Regions from separate parts of the Homo sapiens genome. Here region 2 is linked to region 1. The links come from fine-mapping of genetic effects on gene expression. A gene starts in region 1. The other region holds a variant in brackets. All regions are shown on one strand. Distances are between the middles of the regions.

Region 1 (8,922 bases):
GCTTGGGTGGCAGAGTGAGATGCTGTCTCAGAAAAAAAAAAAAAAAAGAAGTGGTAAAGTCAACTAGATAAAATATATACCCACAAATAAATTTCCTGGGGTTTCCTACTAGATAAAATCCAAGTTCCACATCAAGACTCAACTAAACAGTCATTTTCTCTGTGATTTGGACACTGATTGCTGCAGAAAGGTTGAATAAAGAATGAGTTCTCCTCCTTTGGTAGGCCAATAGTAGAGATATTTGATCTGGCCCAGTGGATTGTTGCTTGCAGCTTCTGGTTAAAGAAACCACCAGTGACTTAAGGGGACTTTAGAAACTGATGGAAGAGAGCATTTATTTTATTTTATTATTTTTTTTTTTTTGAGACGGAGTCTCGCTCTGTCTCCCAGTCTGGAGTGCAGTGGCGTGATCTCGGCTCACTGCAACCTCCGCCTCCCAGGTTCAAGCAATTCTCCTGCCTCAGCCTCCCATGTAGCTGGGACTATGGGTGCCGGCCACCACGCAAGGCTAATTTTTGTATTTTTAGTAGAGACCATATTGGTCAGGCTGGTCTCAAACTCCCGACCTCAGGTGATCCACCCACCTTAGCCTCCCAAAGTGCTGGGATTACAGGCGTGAGCCACCGCGCCCGGCTGAGAGCATTTATTTTTATGTATTTTTTTTTTGAGATGGAGTCTTGCTCTGTTGCCCAGGCTGGAGTGCAATGGCGCCATCTTGGCTCACTGCAACCTCCACCTCCCAGGTTCAATCAATCCTCCTGCCTCAGCCTCCGGAGTAGCTGGGATTACAGGGGCCCACCACCACGCCCATCTAATTTTTGTATTTTTAGTAGAGACAGGTTTCACCATCTCGCCCAGGCTGGTCTCGAACTCCTGACCTTGAGATCTGCCCGCCTCAGCCTCCCAAAGTGCTGGGATTACAGGAGTGAGCCACTGCACCCAGCCCGGAAGAGAGCACTAAACTAACTGTAGAGTCATTTACAGGATTTCATGACAAGCAGCTGAAGTCCTTGGAGAAAACAAACAGAACCATAGAGCAGAGGCCCTCAGAATGTGGTAGTTACCCCTGAACATCCTGGAAGACTATCCAGATGCACTTGTAGTTTCTTTTTTTTTTCTTTTTTCTTTTTTTTTTTTTTTTGGCGACAGAGTCTCACTCTGTCGTCTAGGCTGGAGTGCATTGGCATGATCTCAGATCACTGCCACCTCTGCCTCCTGGGTTCAAGCGATTCTCCTGCCTCAGCCTCCCAAGTAGCTGGGATTACAGGCATGCACCACCACACCTGGCTAATTTTTGTGCTTTTAGTAGAGATGGGGTTTCACCATGTTGGCCAGGCTGGTCTTGAACTCCTGACCTCAGGTGATCTGCCTGTGTGGATCTGCCAAACTGCTGGGATTACAGGCATGAGCCACCACACCTGGACAGCTCTTGCAGTTTCAAGGAAATGGATTTCCACATTTCAACTTCCATTTTACTCTTCCCTGAAATTGGCTGGCTTGGGAACAAGTCTGACTATGCAATGGTCCTCCTTCTATTTCTCCTCCTTATATATTTCACAAGAGAAAAATACACCTTTCTGGCATCCTAATTCAAACTACGGCTCATTGCTCCAGGGTGGTAAAAATCTCTTTGAACTTAACAGAAGGATATATAAAAATACTTGTTTCAGGGAAATCTTTTTAAAAAGTAAGGCATTTTTGTCCTTTGACAGGTGAATGGATAAACAAAATGTGATATATACATACAAAGCAATATTATTCAGCCCTAAAACGGAAGGAAATTCTTGCAACATAGATGAACATTGGCTAAGAGTGATAAGCCAGTAACAAAAAGACAAACGTTGCATCATTTCACTGACATAAAGTACTTAGAGCAGTCAAAATCACAGTCAGAAAGTATAATGGTGGTTGCCAGGGGCTAGAGAGAGGAGAGAAAGATGAGTTATTGTTTATGGGTACAGAGTTTCAGTTTTGCAAGATGAAGAGTTTTGAAGACAGATGATAGTGATGGTTGCATAGGAATGTGAACATACTTAATATCATTGAATTATACACCCCCCAAAAATGGTTCAAATAGTACAAAGAAAAAAAAAGTAGTCAAGGCTTTCTAAACCCAAGAGGTTCTTGTCTAATATGCATTTCTTTTATTATTATTATTTTTTTTTTTTAGACAGAGTCTCATTCTGTTGCCCAGGCTGGAGTGCAGTGGCAGGATCTCACTCACTGCAACCTCTGCCTCCTGGGTTCAAGCTATTCTCCTGCCTCAGCCTCCCGAGTAACTGGGATCACAGACATGTGCCATCACACCCGGCTAATTTTTTGTATTTTTAGTAGAGACAAAGTTTCATCATGTAGGCCAGGCTGGTCTTGAACTCCTGATCTCAGAAGATCTAGGGCTCCTGAAGTGCTGGGATTATAGGCATGAGCCACTGCGCCTGACCTCTAATATGCATTTCTATCAGGGGCTTTAGAAATAGATACTTGAAGGCCAGGCAAGGTGGCTCACGCCTGTAATCCCAACACTTTGGGAGGCCAAAGGGGGCAGATCACCTGAGGTCAGGAGTTCGAGACCAGCCTGGTCAACATGGTGAAACCCCGTCTCTACTAAAAAGGTAAAAAAATTAGCTGGGTGTGGTGGCAGGCGCCTATAATCCCAGCTACTCAGGAGGTTGAGGCAGGAGAATCGCTTGAACCCAGGAGGCGGAGGTTACAGAGAGCCGAGATAGCACCATTGCACTCCAGCCTGGACAACAAAAGTGAAACTCCATCTCGAAAAAAAAAAAAAGATATTTGAAAGCCTGTATTGAGATACTCTAGAATCACAACAGCTGAAGCAGTATGAATGATTTAAAATGTAAATGCCAGGTCCGGTGCAGTGGCTCATGCCAGTAACAGCACTTTGGGAGGCTGAGGCGGGCAGATAGCTTGTTGGGGACCAGCCTGGGCAACATGGTGAAACCACATTTCTACAAAACCATACAAAAATTAGCTGGGCATGGTGGGGCACGCCTGTAGTCCCAGCTGCGCAAGAGGCTGAGTCACGAGAATCTCTTGAACCCGGGAGGCGGAGGGTGTGGTGAGCTGAGATTGTACCATTGCACTCCAGCCTGGGCAACAAGAGCAAAACTCCGTCTCAAAAATGAATAAAATAAAATAAAATAAAAAGAGAGAACTTTACACAACTTTTTTTCCCCCTGAGACAGAGTCATTTGCCCTGTCGCCCAGGATGGAGTGCAGTGGTCTGATCTCAGCTCATTACCACCTCCGCTTTCCCGATTCAAGCAATTCTCCCGTCTCAGCCTCCCCAGTAGCTGGGTTTACAAGCATGGCCCACCACACCTGGCTAATTTTTGTATTTTTAGTAGAGATGGGTTTTCACCATGCTGGACAGGCTGGTCTTGAACTCCTGACCTCAAGTGATCCACCCACCTTCGCCTTCCAAAGTGCCGGGATTATAGGCGTGAGTCACCGCACCAGGCAGAAACTTTACACAACATTTTAAAGATTTTCTGTGCTTTTTAAAAAATGTCAAATAGAAGTATTTACTCCAATTGCAGTCAATCTTTGTTTCATTCCATCTTGTAAAAGTTGAATATTTTCTCTTTCTTATTTTTTTCTTTTTTCAAAGTATTTTTCATTTGTTATTAATTTTTTTCTTTTTAAAAATTATTATTTTATTTCTTATTGATTTTTAAAAAACCCTATTTAAATTTACATTGAAAAAGTTGGCCGGGCGCTGAGGCTCATGCCCGTAATCCCAACAGTTTGGGAGGCCGAGGCAGGTGGATCACGAGATAAGGAGTCCCAGACCAGCCTGGCCAATATGGTGAAACTCCTTTCTACTAAAAATACAAAAATTAGCCGGGCATGGCGGCGCACACCTGTAGTCCCAGCTACTTCGGAGGCTGAGGCAGGAGAATCGCTTGAATCCGGGAGGCAGAGGTTACAGTGAGCCGAGATCGTGCCACTGCACTCCAGCCTAGGGGACAGAATGAGACTCCATCTCAGGAAAAAAAAAAAAAAAAAGGGAAAAGTTTCTGGCCAGGCGCCGTGGCTCACGCCTGTAATCGCAGCACTTTGGGAGGCCGAGGCGGGTGGATCACTTGAGGTCAGCAGTTTGAGAGCAGCCTGGCCAACATAGCGAAACCCCGTCTCTACTAAAAATACGAAAAATTAGCCGGGCGTGGTGGCGGGCGTCTGTAATCCCAGCTACCCGGGAGGCTGAGGTAGGAGAATTGCTTGAACCCAGGAGGCAGAGGTTGCAGTGAGCCAAGATCGCACCATTGCACTTCGGCCTGGGTGACAAGAGCGAAATTCTGTCTCAAAAAAAAAAAAAAAAAAAAAGAAAGAAAGAAAGAAAAGAAAAAGAAAAAAAAGAAAAGAAAAAGTTTCTGTGGCAGGGCACAGTGGCTCATGCCTACAATCCCAACACTTTGGGAGGTTGAGGAGGGAGAATCGCTTGAGTCTAGGAGTTCGAGACCAGCCTGGGCAACATAGTGAGACCTCCCCATGTATACAAAAAAATTAAAAAGAAAAGAAAAAGCTGGGCATGGTGTCCGCACCTGTAGTAACAGCTACTCAGGATGCTGAGGTGGGAGGATCGCTTGAGCCCTGGTGGCTGAGGTTGCAGTGAGCCGAGATTGCGCCCCCCTAACTCAAACCAAAATTAAATTTAAAAAAACTTTCACTTGAAAGAGAAAAGTTTCTCTGTCAATGTTTTTGTTTTGTTTTGTTTTGTTTTGTGATGGACTCTTTTTCTGTTGCCCAGGCTGGAGTGCAGTGGCGCGATCTCGGCTCACTGCAACCTCTGCCTCCCGGGTTCAAGCAGTTCTCTGTCTCGGCCTCCCGAGTAGATGGGACTACAGGCGCCACCAAGCCCGGCTAATTTTTTGTATTTTTAGTAGAGACGGGGTTTCACCATGTTGGCCAGGAAGGTCTCGATGTCTTGGCCTCGTGATCCGCCCGCCTCGGCCTCCCAAACTGCTGAGATTACAGGCGTGAGCCACCACGCCTGGCCTCTTTTTCTTTTTTGAGACAGAGTCTCGCTCTGTCGCCCAGGCTGGAGTGAAGTGGCACGTCTCAGCTCACTGCAACCTCCGCCTCCCGGGTTCAAGTGATTCTCCAGCCTCAGCCTCCCGAGTAGCTGGGATTACAGGTGCCCGCCACCACGCCTAGCTAATATTTGTATTTTTTAGTAGAGACGGGGTTTCTTTCGCCTTGTTGGCCAGGCTGGTCTTGAACTCCTGACCTCAGGTGATCCGCCCACCTCGGTCTCCCAGATTGCTGGGATTACAGGCGTGAGTCAGTGTGCCCAGGCAACACACACACACACATATATTTAATTATAAGAAAGACCAGGTCTTGCTGGGTTGCCCAGGCTGGTCTCAAACTCCTGAGCTCAAGCGACCCGCCTGCCTCGGCCTCTCGGATGCTGAGGTTACAGGCGTGAGCCACCGCGCCCGGCCCTACCTCATCTTCTTAAGACAGGGGCACGGATTGCCTGGAGAGTTAGAAACTTCGAGACTTTTGTAGCCTCAGGAAAGGCCGCGGCCAGCCTCTTCGCGGCATGGGCGTGGCTCCCAGCGACTTCCCAGCCTGGGGTTCCCCTTCGGGTCGCAGACTCTTGTGTGCCCGCCAGTAGTGCTTGGTTTCCAACAGCTGCTGCTGGCTCTTCCTCTTGCGGCCTTTTCCTGAAACGGATTCTTCTTTCGGGGAACAGAAAGCGCCAGCCATGCAGCCTTGGCACGGAAAGGCCATGCAGAGAGCTTCCGAGGCCGGAGCCACTGCCCCCAAGGCTTCCGCACGGAATGCCAGGGGCGCCCCGATGGATCCCACCGAGTCTCCGGCTGCCCCCGAGGCCGCCCTGCCTAAGGCGGGAAAGTTCGGCCCCGCCAGGAAGTCGGGATCCCGGCAGAAAAAGAGCGCCCCGGACACCCAGGAGAGGCCGCCCGTCCGCGCAACTGGGGCCCGCGCCAAAAAGGCCCCTCAGCGCGCCCAGGACACGCAGCCGTCTGACGCCACCAGCGCCCCTGGGGCAGAGGGGCTGGAGCCTCCTGCGGCTCGGGAGCCGGCTCTTTCCAGGGCTGGTTCTTGCCGCCAGAGGGGCGCGCGCTGCTCCACGAAGCCAAGACCTCCGCCCGGGCCCTGGGACGTGCCCAGCCCCGGCCTGCCGGTCTCGGCCCCCATTCTCGTACGGAGGGATGCGGCGCCTGGGGCCTCGAAGCTCCGGGCGGTTTTGGAGAAGTTGAAGCTCAGCCGCGATGATATCTCCACGGCGGCGGGGATGGTGAAAGGGGTTGTGGACCACCTGCTGCTCAGACTGAAGTGCGACTCCGCGTTCAGAGGCGTCGGGCTGCTGAACACCGGGAGCTACTATGAGCACGTGAAGGTGAGCTGCTTGGCGCCCTCCCGCCGAGCCCCGCTGCTCGGCCTTCCGCAATCCGCAGTCCCTACCTTCCCCGGGTCGCGCCCCTCACTTCCCTTCGGAAGTAACTTAGACTTTTGCATGTTTTTCGGTAGCCTAGTCTAAGTAAAACGACAAACCGTTCGTTTATTCATCTACACATCCAACGATCAGACAACCAACCGGTACTGATTGCTGGCTAATTTCAAGACACTGCTCCCGGGGGAATTCAAATGTATGGGTTCATTCATGCAAGCCGACATGTATCGAGTTTCCGTAACAGGGCAGTGTTTGATGGTGTGGACCTGAGGTCCCGAGTCAGATATTGACTTGGATAATTTGAAGTGGTCTGTTAAAAATTCCACGTAGACTTTTTCCTATGAGGAAGACCTCTTACTCCATAGAAAAAAAGATCTTCAGTTTCTCTCCCCCTCTTCCTCCCTGCCCCCTCTCCTGCTATCCCGTCTGACCCCAATTTCTTTTTTTTCTTTTTTCTTTTCTTTTCTTTTTTTTTTTTTTTGAGGCGGAGTCTCGCTGCGTCCCCCAGGCTGGAGTGCAGTGGCGCTATCTCGGCTCACTGCAAGCTCCGCCTCCCGGGTTCACGCCATTCTCCTGCCTCAGCTTCCCGAGTAGCTGGGACTACAGGCGCCCGCCACCATGCCCGGCTAATTTTTTTTGTATTTTTAGTAGAGACGGTGTTTCACCGTGTTAGCCAGGATGGTCTCGATCTCCTGACCTCTTGATTCGCTCGTCTCGGCCTCTCAAAGTGCTGGGATTACAGGCGTGAGCTACCGCGCCCGGCCGTCTGTCCCCAGTTTCTTACACAGAAATCATGGGAAGCTTACAGTATAATGTTAAACAAACAAATAAGAATATCTCCTACAGATACTAAAACGCTTTCTAGATACACATTCCGTATAATTGCTTCGACGTGTGTATTACACAGCTCCATTTGCTTGTGGGTGATTGAGTCATTAATCATTCCTGTGTAAATTGAAAGTTTAGAAGCAGGTTCCTGACTGGAGCGTGTTTCTTGCCCAGCAAGAGATTTGTTTCTTTTTCTTTTTCTTTCTTTCTTTCTTTTTTTTTTTTTTGAGACGGAGTTTCGCTCTTGTTACCCAGGCTGGAGTGCAATGGCGCGATCTCAGCTCACCTCAACCTCCACCTCCCAGGTTCAAGCGATTCTCCTGTCTCAGCCTCCTGAGTAGATGGGATTACAAGCATGAGCCTCCACCCTGGCTAATTTTGTATTTTTAGTAGAGACGGGCTTTCTCCATGTTGGTCAGGCTGGTCTAGAACTCCCGACCTCAGGTGATCTGCCAGCCTCAGCCTCCCAAAGTGCTGGGATTACAGGCGTGAGCCACCACACCCGGCTTCTTTTCTCTTCTTTTTTCTCTTCTCTTCTCTTCTCTCTATCTCTCTGTCTCTCTCTTTTCCTCCCTCCCTCTCTTCCTCTCTCTCTCTCTCTCTTTATTTTGTTCTTTCTTTCTTTTCTTTCTTCTTTCTTCTTTTTTTGATGGAGTTTCACTCTTGTTGCCCAGGCTGTAGTGCAGTGGTGCCATCTAGGTTTCGCTGCAACCTCCGGCTTCCAGGTTCAAGCGATTCTCCTGCTTCAGCCTTCCAAATAGCAGGGATTACAGGTGCCTGCCCCCACTCCCGGCTAATTTATGTATTTTTAGTAGAGACGGGGTTTCACCATGTTGGCCAGGCTGGTCTCGAACTCTGACCTCAGATGATCCACCTGCCTCGGCCTCCCTAAGTGCTGGGATTACAGGCTTGAGCCACGGCACCCAGCCCAGACTGTGTCTTGAGCATGATTCTTTTTAATTAACTAATTTACTTTTCAGCATCAGATATGTCTCTGATTGAGCATGATTCTTATTATGTAAGTATCAATTCAGTTCAATTACTGTATATGGCGGGTCCAAAGGAAAAAGAAAGTTACTAGTTAGAATTAGAGAACAAGACATTCAGAAGACAGTCTCCATTCAGAACCACTTTGTGTGTGTGTGTGTGTGTGTGTGTGTGTGTGTTTGAGACAGAGTCTCACTCTGTCACCCAGGCTGGAGTGCAGTGGCGCGATCTCGGCTCACTGCAAGCCCTGCCTACTGGGTTCACACCATTCTCCTGCCTCAGCCTCCCAAGTAGCTGGGACTACAGGCGCCCGCCACCATGCCCAGCTAATTTTTGTATTTTTAGTAGAGACGGGGTTTCACCGTGTTAGCCAGGCTGGTCTCTATCTCCTGACCTCATGATCTTCCCGCCTTGGCCTCCCAAAGTGCTGGGATTACAGGTGGGAGCCACCATGCCCAGCCCAGAACCACTTTGTTTTTAAAAATTATGCCAATGAAAAGAAATCCAGTGAAATTTGTTTTATCTAAAACTTTTTCTTTTTTTCTTTTTCTTTTTTCTTTTTTTTTGGGGATGGAGTCTTGCTCTGTCACCCAGGGTGGAGTGCAGTGATGTGATCTTGGCTCACTGTAACCTCCGCCTCCCGGGTTCAAGTGAGTCTCCTGCCT
Region 2 (11,541 bases), 29 kb after region 1:
GATGTTTTGCCTTCTTTCTGATTTCTCTCTCCAACTTTTTACCTCACATAATGATTGTTGCTATAGTTTTCTAAAATCTACCTTTTATGGAATCAAGTGTCCATCTAGACTTAGATTGCTAAGAGGTGTTTTTTTAATGATGAACGACTATAGGATTTTAAGAGCTTCATTTTCTTCATCTATTGAGACAATCATGTATTTCTCCTCTATTCTGTTAATGTGACAGATTATATTGATTGATTTTTCTGAAAAATCATTCAGATTATAAACTACTTATACTTTGCTAGTATAAAACCACGAAGTAACAGGGTGGTCAGAGCATAAAAGAGCTAGCCATGGTAAGACTCGGGGAGAAATTTTTTTTTTTTGAGACAGAGTCTTGTGCTGTTGCCCAGGCTGGAGTGCAGTGGCGCGATCTCCGCTCACTGCAAGCTCCACCTCCCGGGTTCGCGCCATTCTCCTGCCTCAGCCTCCCAAGTAGCTGGGATTACAGGCGCCCGCCACCACGCCCGGCTAATTTTTTGTATTTTTGGTAGAGGCAGGGTTTCACTGTGTTAGCCAGGATGGTCTTGATCTCCCGACCTTGTGATCCGCCCACCTTGGCCTCCCAAGGTGCTGGGATTACAGGCGTGAGCCACCGCGCCCAGGTGAAATCATTCTATATTTACACAAACTCTCATAAATAAGAATAAAGGAAATGGTCCCCAATTCATTTTGTATTAATATAAAACCTGTAAGGATGGTACAGAAAAAGTGAATAAATTGATTCAAATTATTATTGAAACAAAATATTTAACAAAGGGAATTTAGCAATATATAAAAGGTAATACATCTTACTATTGCTAACTATATTAAACTGTGACTTCCTTTTTTTTTCGGTTAGGCCCATTTTTTGTCTCAGTGTACTTATTTTTATACATAATTATTTATCTGTTCACTTCTTTTGATTCACTCCTAAGATTTTTTCAGAATATTTTCTTTTTCTTTCTTTCTTTTTTTTTTTTTGATGGAGTTTTGCTCTTGTTGCCCAGGCTGGAGTGCAATGGTGCAATCTCGGCTCACTGCAACCTCCACCTCCCAGGTTCAAGTGATTCTCCTTCCTCAGCCTCCCGAGTAGCTGGGATTACAGGCATGTGCCACCATGCCAGGATAACTTTTTTTTGTATTTTTGGTAGAGATGGGTTTCTCCATGTTGGTCAGGCTGGTCTCGAACTCCCGACCTCAGGTGACCCACCCTCCTCGGCCTCCCAAAGTACTGAGATTACAGGCGTGAGCCCCCATGCCCAGCCCCAGGATATTTTCATGAGGGAAACCACTTGAATATTGTTTAGATATGGATGCTTTGGGTAAAGTGCTTTTTTGTTTTTCTTTTTGAAATTAAGAAGAAACATGGCGGCTATCCTTCTCTCACATCGAAAAGGAAATTTTGAACAATCATGGAAAATCTAAAACGTGCTGTGAAAACAAAGAAGAGAAATGTTGCAGGTAACAGCCTTATTTTGTTAAATGACAGATTATCTATGGTATGCTTAATTATTTGTTGACTCCACACCTCAGACCTGAAGAGCTGAGCTGGGTTGGGTCTGGGGGGCAGGGCAGGATTGGGTTGAGCTGGGGAGAGTGTGAGTATGAAACCAGAGAAGCTAGATCCAAAGGGCCAAGGAAAGGGTGTTGTTAGAAGGCAAGGCCGGGGAATAGTAGTTCTGAACCCTGGATCAGATGAATGTGTTTTTGTATAGATGTATCAGTAGGACAGAGTGAGAGGGTATGAGCACTAGCCATGACAATTCGATGGGTCTTAGTATTCTGCTTGTTTAAAAGTAATGGATATTAATGCCATATAATTGGAGGAGGCCAAAAGGTCGCTCTTATTAGATACTGGGCTTGCTTTGGGATAGTTGGGTTGTGTTGACGGCTAGGGATTGATTGGCCAAACTGAAAACAACACTAAGTGAGTAATTTTTTTTTTTGAGACAGACTTTCACTCTGTCACCCAGACTGGAGTGCAGTGGCACAATTACGGCTCACCACAGCCTCGATCTCCTGGGCTCAAGCAATCATCCTACCTCAGCCCCCCAAGTAGCTGAGATTACAGGTGCATGCCACCATGCTCGGCTAATTTAAAAAAAAATTTTGTAGAGGGCCTGTTGGCTCACACCTGTAATCCCAGCCTAGCAACATGGTGAGACCCCACCTCCATAAAAAATTTAAAAATTAGCCAGGCATGGTGACTGGTGCCTGTGGTCCCAGCTACTTGGAAGGCTGAGGTAGGAGAATGGCTCGAGCCCAGAAAATCAAGGCTGCAGTGAGCCATGATCGTGCCACTGCACTGCAACCTGGGTGACATAGTGACACCCTGTCTCAAAAAAAATTTTTTTTATTGGTAGAGATGGTGGTCTCCCTTTGTTGCCCAGGCAGGCTGGTCACCAACTCCTGGGTTCAAGTAAACTTCCCGCCTTGGCCTCCCAAAGTCTTGGAAGTACGGGGATGAGACACTGCACCCCACCATTTTTTTTTGTGATGGCATACACACCATAAAGAACTAAGATTGAAAAGGAATTGTTCATTTGAGTTTCTAAAGTTGGCCAGTATTGGCCAGGCATGGTGGCTCAAGGCCTGCAATCCCAGCACTTTGGGAGGCCAGGGCAGGTGGATCACCTGAGGTCAGGAATTCGAGACCAGCCTGGCCTACGTGGCGAAACCCCGTCTCTACTAAAAATACAAAAATTAGCTGGGCGCAGTGGCACGTGCCTGTAATCCCCGCTACTCAGGAGGCTGAGGCAAGAGAATCACCTGAACCCGGGAGACAGAGGTTGCAATAAGCTGAGATCATGCCACTGCACTCCAGCCTGGGCAACAGAGCAAGACTCCATCTTAAATAAATAAATAAATAAATAAATAAATAAATAAATAAAGTAAGTTGGCCAGTATAAAGATCACAAAAGTTAAAAAGTCAAAACAAAAATGCCCAACATGCAGGCACAGAGGTTCTTTAAGATCTCATATGCAGGCTTTGAAGTAAGCATTAAGAAAACTATATTGTTGGCCAGGCACAGTGGCTCACGCCTGTAATCCCAGCACTTTGGGAGGCCGAGGCAGGTAGATCACCTGAGGTCAGGAGTTCGAGACCAGCCTGGCCAACGTTATGAAACCCCGTCTCTACAAAAATGCAAAAATTAGCCGGGCGAGGTGGCATGCACCTGTAATCCCAGCTACTTAGGAGGTTGAGGCAGGAGAATCGCTTGAACCCAGTAGGCAGAGGTTGCGGTGAGCTGAGATCACACCACTGCACTCCAGCCTGGGCAACAGAGCGAGACTCCATCTCAAAAAAAAAGGAAAAAGAAAAAAAAAAAGAAATATTGTTGATAAGGCTAAATAGTTTCATAAATAGTACATTTTGTCAACTACTAAATAACTAGATGAGATGGCAGATTATCTATGGTACTCTTAATAATGTAAATAATTCTGTGATACAATCAGTGGATTTTAGAAAAGAAAAAATTTATATTAAATTTGCAGTTCAATAAAGTAAAATAATTTTATAACAAAACAAGATTTTGGATCGCTTGAGGGGGGTGAGGGGAGGGTCAGAGGTTGCAGTGAGCCGAGATTGTATCACTGCATCCCAGCCTGGGTGACAGAGTGAGACCCTGTCTCAAAAAAAAAAAAAATAGTATAAATATCTGTTAGCTTTATACAGTTGAAGAAATTCATAGAATATATTTAAGCTAAGAATGGGAAAGAGAGGGAAAAAATGTGTTTTTGAAACTTCAAACCATATATTTGAAAACATAATCAGATTTTAGTGTGACTGTTGTATTTATTTTATTTTATTTTATTTTATCATTTCATTTCATTTCATTTATTTCATTTTATTTTATTATTTTATTTTATTTTATTTTATTTTATTTTGAGATGGAGTCTCACTTGTTGCCCAGGCTGGAGTGCAGTGGCATGATCTTGGCTCACTGCAACCTCTGCCTCCTGGGTTCAAGTGATTCTCCTGCCTCAGCCTCCCGAGTAGCTGGGATTATAGGTGCACGCCACCACACCTGGCTAATTTTTGTATTTTTAGTAGAGATGGGGTTTCAGCATACTGGCCAGGCTGATCTCGAACTCTTGACCTCGTGATCCGCCTGCCTAGGCCTCCCAAAGTGCTGGGATTACAGGCATGAGCCACCGCGCCCGGCTTTTTTGTTTTTGTTTTTGTTTTCTGTGTGTGACAGAGTTTCGTTCTTGTTGCCCAGGCTGGAGTGCAATGACGCGATCTTGGCTCACTGCAACCTCCGCCTCCTGGCTTCAAGCGATTCTCGTGCCTCAGCCTGCAGAGTAGCTGGGATTACAGGCGTGCGCCACCACGCCCAGCTAATTTTGTATTTTTAGTAGAGACGGGGTTTCACCATATTAGTCAGGCTGGACTCAAACTCTTGATCTTAGGTGATCCCCCTGCCTCAGCCTCCCAAAGTGCTGGGATTACAGGCGTTGTGTCACCACGCCCGGCCTATATTTATGTTATTATATATCTTTATTGTTTATATTTTTGCTATGAGATGCCTAAAATCCTTTGTTGAATGTAAATAAGTAAAAATAAGTGTTTTCCTTTTTTATTCAACAGGAAAGATTGTTTAAAACTAATGAAATACCTTTTAGAACAGCTGAAAGAAAGGTTTAAAGACAAAAAACATCTGGATAAATTCTCTTCTTATCATGTGAAAACTGCCTTCTTTCACGTATGTACCCAGAACCCTCAAGACAGTCAGTGGGACCGCAAAGACCTGGGCCTCTGCTTTGATAACTGCGTGACATACTTTCTTCAGTGCCTCAGGACAGAAAAACTTGAGAATTATTTTATTCCTGAATTCAATCTATTCTCTAGCAACTTAATTGACAAAAGAAGTAA[G/A]GAATTTCTGACAAAGCAAATTGAATATGAAAGAAACAATGAGTTTCCAGTTTTTGATGAATTTTGAGATTGTATTTTTAGAAAGATCTAAGAACTAGAGTCACCCTAAATCCTGGAGAATACAAGAAAAATTTGAAAAGGGGCCAGACGCTGTGGCTCACACCTGTAATCCCAGCTCTTTGGAGGCCGAGGCAGGCGGATCACTTGAGGTCAGGAGTTTGAGACCAGCCTGACCAACATGGTGAAACTCCATCTCTACTAAAAATATAAAAATTAGCCGGGCATGGTGATGCATGCCTGTAATCCCAGCTACTCGGGAGGCTTAGACATGAGAATCACTTGAACCCAGGAGGTGGAGGTTGCAGTGAGTCAAGATGGCACCACTGCACTCCATCCTGGGTGACAGAGCAAGACTTCCTCTCAAAAAATAAATAAATAAATAAGAAAAATAAATTAGGAAATTATTAAAATAATTTTTTAGAAAAGCAACAAAATAACAAAAATTAGTGACTGTAATAATTGGAATGTTTGAAATTTGTCACAGCAATAATTGACTAAAATGAATGTAAATAATTATTCAGTTTTCAGTTTGTTGTAATAAACTCTAATCAGTATAAAGGATTGACTATCCTAGGAAAAAGATTAGTCAAGGAATAAGAAGCAAAAGTAGTATTTGAAATCTAAAAACATTACCATGTTTGCTTTATCATGCAGGCAAATAAATAAATAAATGACATTTTTAGGTTGGAATAAAAAAAGATAAAGTACATATTGCCTTAATTAAATTCATCAAGTTCTTACTGAAAAACAGCTCTCCGCCGTGCCTGGCCAGGAAATACATAATTTTTTTTTTTTTTTTTTAGATGGAGTCTCGCTCTGTCGCCCAGGCTGGAGTCCAGTGGCATGATCTTGGCTCACTGCAAGCTCTGCTTCCTGGGTTCATGCCATTCTCCTGCCTCAGCCTTCCGAGTAGCTGGGACTACAGGTGCCCGCCACCACATCCGGCTAATTTTTTGTATTTTTAGTAAAGATGGGGTTTCACCATGTTAGCCAGGATGGTCTCGATCTCCTTACCTTGTGATCCGCCCGCCTTGGCCTCCCAAAGTGCTGGGATTACAGGTGTGAGCCACCACGCCTGGCTGAAATACATAATCTTAAAAGAAAACATAAGATACTTTATTTTAATATACGTGACTAAATGTAAAACCTAACTTATTTTCTGTTATCTATTTATTTTTACTTTCAGTAACACTTTTTTTATTTTAGGTAGCATTCAGCCTAGAGGCAACTGCTGTTTGTTAAATATTTCCTGTTCATATATTTTGCACATTTTCTTATGGGTTAGTTTTCTTCTCATTGTTTTGGGAAGTTCTTAATATATTTGGGGTATTTATCTTTCATTCGTTGTCTGTGTAACAAATAACTTCTGCCATATGGGTTGTCTGCACATTTTTTGGTGTCTTTTAGTAAACAAGGTTTTTTTGTTTTGTATTGTTTTGTTTATTGTAAAGATTTTTAAATTTTAATGGAGTTGATTTCTTTTCTCATTCAAGCTTTTGAGAATAAATTGGAGTTGAATTTTTTATGGTTTTTGCTTTATACATCTTGTTTAACAGCCTACTATGTTTGAACATACTAAGAGAAACATTAGACATTTGAAGAGTTTTGGGGACAATTAATGATAAATAAACCACTATGCAAATAAAATAATCTAAGCAATTTTTTTTTTTTTTGGGACAGTCTCACTCTGTCGCCCAGGCTGGAGTGCAGTGGCACGATCTTGGCTCACTGCACCCTCCTCCTCCCGGTTCAAGCAATTCTCCTGCCTCAGCCTCCCAAGTAGCTGGGACTACAGTTGCACGCCACCATGCCTGGCTAATTATTTTTGTATTTTTAGTAGAGACAGAGTTTCACCATGTTGGTCAAGCTGGTCTCAAACTCCTGACCTCAGGTGATACACCCATCTCAGCCTCCCAAAGTGCTAAGATTACAGATGTGAGCACTGTGCCCAGCCAATCTAAGCAATTTTTAACTCCATAAGAAAAATGAATGCATGAAAGAAAAGTCTGATATAAGAATATTGCTCAGCTGTTTAAGTATTGACAAAGTCATAGTAATGTAACCATTGACTATTAATCTTATTGAAGTTATGGACTGTTGTCGACTTTAAAAAAATTAAAAACCAGGGGCGGTGGCTCACCCCTGTAATTCCAGCACTTTGGGAGGCCAAGGCGGGCAGATCATGAGGTCAGGAGTTCAAGACCAGCCTGGCCAACATGGTGAAACCTCATCTCTACTAAAAATACAAAAATTAGATGAGTATGGTGGTACGTGCCTGTAATCCCAGCTACTTGGGAGGCTGAGGCAGGAGAATCGCTTGAACCCAGGAGGCAGAGGTTGCAGTGAGCCAAGACAGTGCCGCTGCACTCCAGCCTGGTGACAGAGCGAGACTCCATCTCAAAAAAAAAAAAAAAATTAAAAAAAAACTTTTTTAATGTGAAAAGAAAGAAAGAAATTATGATTACCCACTCTGTGGTTAGGATAGGACAATAGGCTTAGTTCCTGTATGGTGACAGTGGTAGGGAGATTACATTAGTTTCCTGTGTAACAATTAACCACAACCTTAGAGGCTTAAAACAACACATATTTATTATCTCACATTTTCAGTGGGCCAAAATTCTGGGTGTGGCTCTGCTCAGAGTCTCTCAAGGCTATAATTAAGACGTCAGCCAGCGCTGTAGCCTCATCTGAGGCTTGACTGGAGAAGGAACCATTTTTGTTGGCAGAATTTAGTTCCTTTACATTTGTAGGACTGAGGGCTTCAGTTTCTTGCTGTCAGCCAGAGGTTGCCCTCAGTTCCTAGAAGCTGTCTTCAGTTCCTTACCATGTGAGCCTCCCAACATAGGCAGCCCACAACAGTAGCTCGATTCTTCAAAGCCAGCAAGGGAGGTACTCCAGCAAGAGGAGTGCTACAAACTTGTTTAACACAATTACATACACATAATTATGTACAGTCCGTTGCCTGTACTGTATTCTATTGATTGGAAGCAAGTCAAAGGTCCCTCTCATACCCAAGAGGAGAGGAATCACTCAAGGGTGTTCTTGTTGTCTCAGATGCCAGCGATACAGTTAGGGGGAAAACAGTTCCCATAAGACCACCCTCATTTCTGTCAACAATTGCAATTTCAAGGGATTCCTAAAACCACCCTGAGGTTTGATGAAAGACTCACAGAACTCACTAAAACCACTATGCTCATGGTTGCAGTTTATTATATAGTAAGCATGCAAGTTTAAATCAGCCAAAGGAAGAAGTGCGTAAGGCAGAGTTTAAGAGAGTAGCAAACACAGCACTTTCTGTTGTCTTTTGGTGGAGTCATGGACATGTTATTCTCTTGGCATCAATGTGTGCCAATACACGCAGAATATTGCCAGCCAGGGAAGCTCACCTGAGCCATGTCCAGAGTTCTTACTGCAGCTCATGGTTGGCTGGACATATGTCTAACCTCAGTCTCCAGCTCCTCTGGAAGGCAAACAGTATAAGCTGATACCATGACCCAAAGACCCCACCATAAATCACATTGTTATACTTTCTGGCACATTCCAAGAATTCAGCCATTACCTTTCAGAAGCCAAGGGCAAAGGTGAGACTTTTCTTTGGGTTAGGTTAAATTCCTTACTACATAGATATGAACCTCAGGAGGTGGGGGGCCACAGGACAACCCTGAGGGTCCGACTGTCACAGGTATGCAAAAACTGAATTAATCTTCCTTATAGTGGGAAGTCAGTAAATGTCAAATTTTTAAAACCAAGAAATTGCAGTATAAGCAAGTTATTAATGGCTAAAAGATGAAAAGGTTACATCTTGGGAGTGGAAAATGAAGGGTGGAAGGGTTCGGGACTACTTTTTTTTTTAAATAAAATGATTTTATTTAGTTAGTTTGTAAATGTGAATATAGTTGGCAAAAACCAAACCAAAACAGCATAAAACCAAAAAATGACAGTTATATGATTGATCATGCCCAAGTACAACAGCATTTATTAGTAGAATATAAAAAATAAATTTTATGGCTGGGTGCCATGGCTCATGCCTGTAATCCCAGCACTTTGGGAGGACGAGGCGGGCGGATCACCTGAGGTCAGGAGTTCAAGACCAGCCTGATCAACATGGAGAAACCCCGTCTCTACTAAAAATACAAAATTGGCCGGGTGTGGTGGCGCATGCCTGTAATCCCAGCTACTCAGGAAGGCTGAGGCAGAAGAATTGCTTGAACCTGGGAGGCAGAGGTTGCAGTGAGCCGAGATTGTGCCATTGCAGTCCAGCCTGGGCAACAAGAGCGAAATTCCATCTCTAAATAAATTAATTAAATTAAAAATAATAAAAAATTTTATTATTGTTGTTATTTATTTATTTATTTTTTTGAGACGGAGTCTTGCTCTGTCACCCAGGCTGGAGTGCAGTGGCGCGATCTTGGCTCACTGCAACCTCCGCCTCCCGAGTTCAAGCGATTCTCCTGCCTTAGCCTCCCAAGTAGCTGGGATTACAGGCACCCACCACCACGCCCACCTAATTTTTTGTATTTTTAGTAGAGACAGGGTTTCACTATGTTGGCCAGGCTGGTCTTGAATGCTTGACCTCATGATCCACCTGCTTTGGCCTTCCAAAGTGCTGAGATTAAGGCGTGAGCCACTGCGCCTGGCCTAAAAATTTTGTTATTTTTATGTGCTTTTTTTCCCCCAGCTTTGACTCTCTGGATGCTTTTGAAAGTTTGAGTTCCTAAGAAATTCCACAGCTAGAGGTTCCTACGATGTCACTGAGTGAGGTTAAGGTTCTGCTCTTATAGGGAGCATCTTATCCTTGGGGATTCTGGACAACTGGACCCCTAGGAACTTGAAAAACAGCTGCTTTCATTGGTATTCTTTTGACATGGGGAAAATATAGCCATTGTCCATTAAAACACAATCCAATTTGGGTACAAGTACTCTTCAGGTTTTCTAAGTTCTCCACAGGAATACCAAGACTAGGCTACCATCTTTTCTGACAACAGACTACTTTTTAAATAAGCTTTGTAAGTCCAAGATTTCTGGCAGAGAAATGTAAATAAAAAATAAAAACAAAAATAAATAAGTCTTGTAGAACCATTTGCTTCCATACATTACATGTATATTTGACTTTGATAAAAATGAAAACAATTTTTTTTTTTGAGACAGAATTTCCCTCTTGTTGCCCAGGCTGGAGTGCGATGACCTAATCTTGGCTCACTGCAAACTCCACCTCCCGGGTTCAAGCGATTCTCCTGCCTCAGCCTCCCGAGTAGCTGGGATTATAAGCGCCCGCCACCACATCTGGCTAATTTTGTATTTTTAGTAGAGACCGGGTTTCTCCGTGTTGGTCAGGCTGGGCTCGAACTCCTGACCTCTGGTGATGCGCCCGCCTCGTCCTCCCAAAGTGCTGGTATTACAGGCGTGAGCCACTGTGCACGGCCTGAACACATATTATTTTTAAATTTTTTCATTTTGCCGGGCGCGGTGGCCTGAACACATATTACTTTTAAATCTTTTTCATTTTGCCAGGCATGAGGGTGGATGCCTGTAATCCCAGCTACTTGGGAGGCTGAGGCAGGAGAGTCGCTTGAACCTGGGAGGCGGAGGTTGTGGGTGAACTGAGATTGTGCCATTGCACTCCAGCCTGGGCAACAAGAGTGAAACTCTGTCTCAAAAAAAAAGTAATATGTGTTCAATGTGAAAAAGTCAGATGTTCACGTTAAAGTGTAAAAAAAAACAAACAGTGAAAATACAGAGAAATAGCATTATTAATCTAACATTTTATTACTGGGTAGTGCCACGCAATTCCAGGCTCCTGGTGTCTTGTTTTGTTTGTTCATTTTTGAGACGGAGTCTCACTCTGTCACCTAGGCTGGAGTGCAGTGGCCCGATCACAGCTCACTGCAACCTCTGCCTCCTGGCATCCAGTGGTTCTCCTGCCTCAGCCTCCTGATTGGGACTGCAGGCCTGCGCCACCATGCCTGGCTAATTTTCATATTTTTAGTAGAGACGGGGTTTCACCACGTTGGGCAGGCTGGTCTCGAACTCCTGACCTCCAGTGTTCTGCCTGCCTCGGTCTCCCAAAGTGCTGGGATTACAGACGTGAGCCACCGTGCCTGGCCTGGCACTTGGTGTCTTGAACAAAGACTTGGATGAGACACACACAGATAGTAAATAAAGCAAAGCAGCAAAAGCTTATTAAGCACTCTCACAAAGGGGAGAGCTGACTGACTTCTGTGAGATGAGATCAGCCTGGTTTGTTACATTTCATGGCCTTTTCTTTTCCTCACTTGCTTACCCTCACTTTATTTCTTGTAAGCTAATTGCTCATCCTTGCTTAACCTTACTTTTTTTTTTTTTTTGAGACAGGGTCTCACTCTGTCACCCAGACTGGAGTGCAGTAGCGTGATCTCGGCTCACCGCAACCTCTGCCTCCCAGGCTTAAGTGATTCTCCTGCCTCAGCCTCCTGAGTAGCTGGGATTACAGGCATGCCCCACCACCCCTGGGTAATTTTTATATTTTTAGTAGAGATGGAGTTTCACTATGTTGGCCAGGCTAATCTCGAACTCCTGACCTCAAATGATCCACCCACCTCGGC

Direction of the effects. Positions count from the first base shown, and alleles are read on the strand shown. Sizes are in standard deviations (SD) of each study's normalised expression.
For the expression in monocytes after interferon gamma of the gene that starts at base 5,616 in region 1, allele G in region 2 goes with a lower level than allele A (moderate effect, 0.51 SD a copy in Fairfax 2014).

Evidence for each region. PIP is the estimated chance that this variant, and not a neighbour inherited with it, causes the effect.
Region 2: its variant is fine-mapped to the expression of CGAS in monocytes after interferon gamma (Fairfax 2014, PIP 0.95). The same link has a PIP of 0.9 or more in monocytes after LPS.

What each region holds. Positions count from the first base shown.
Region 1 is chr6:73,448,991-73,457,912 of GRCh38, reverse strand. CGAS (cyclic GMP-AMP synthase) reads left to right here and starts at 5,616. Exons shown (of 5, transcript NM_138441.3): 1 at 5,616-6,388. The coding sequence starts at 5,732. RefSeq lists an enhancer at 5,335-5,814 and a silencer at 5,985-6,194.
Region 2 is chr6:73,418,653-73,430,193 of GRCh38, reverse strand. It overlaps CGAS (cyclic GMP-AMP synthase), which reads left to right. Exons shown (of 5, transcript NM_138441.3): 4 at 1,383-1,485; 5 at 4,616-6,483. The coding sequence ends at 4,967. Among named protein-coding and RNA genes, the nearest start is that of CGAS, 28 kb to the left of the region's middle. RefSeq lists a silencer at 8,314-8,608. The variant G/A (reference allele first, on the strand shown) is at 4,901.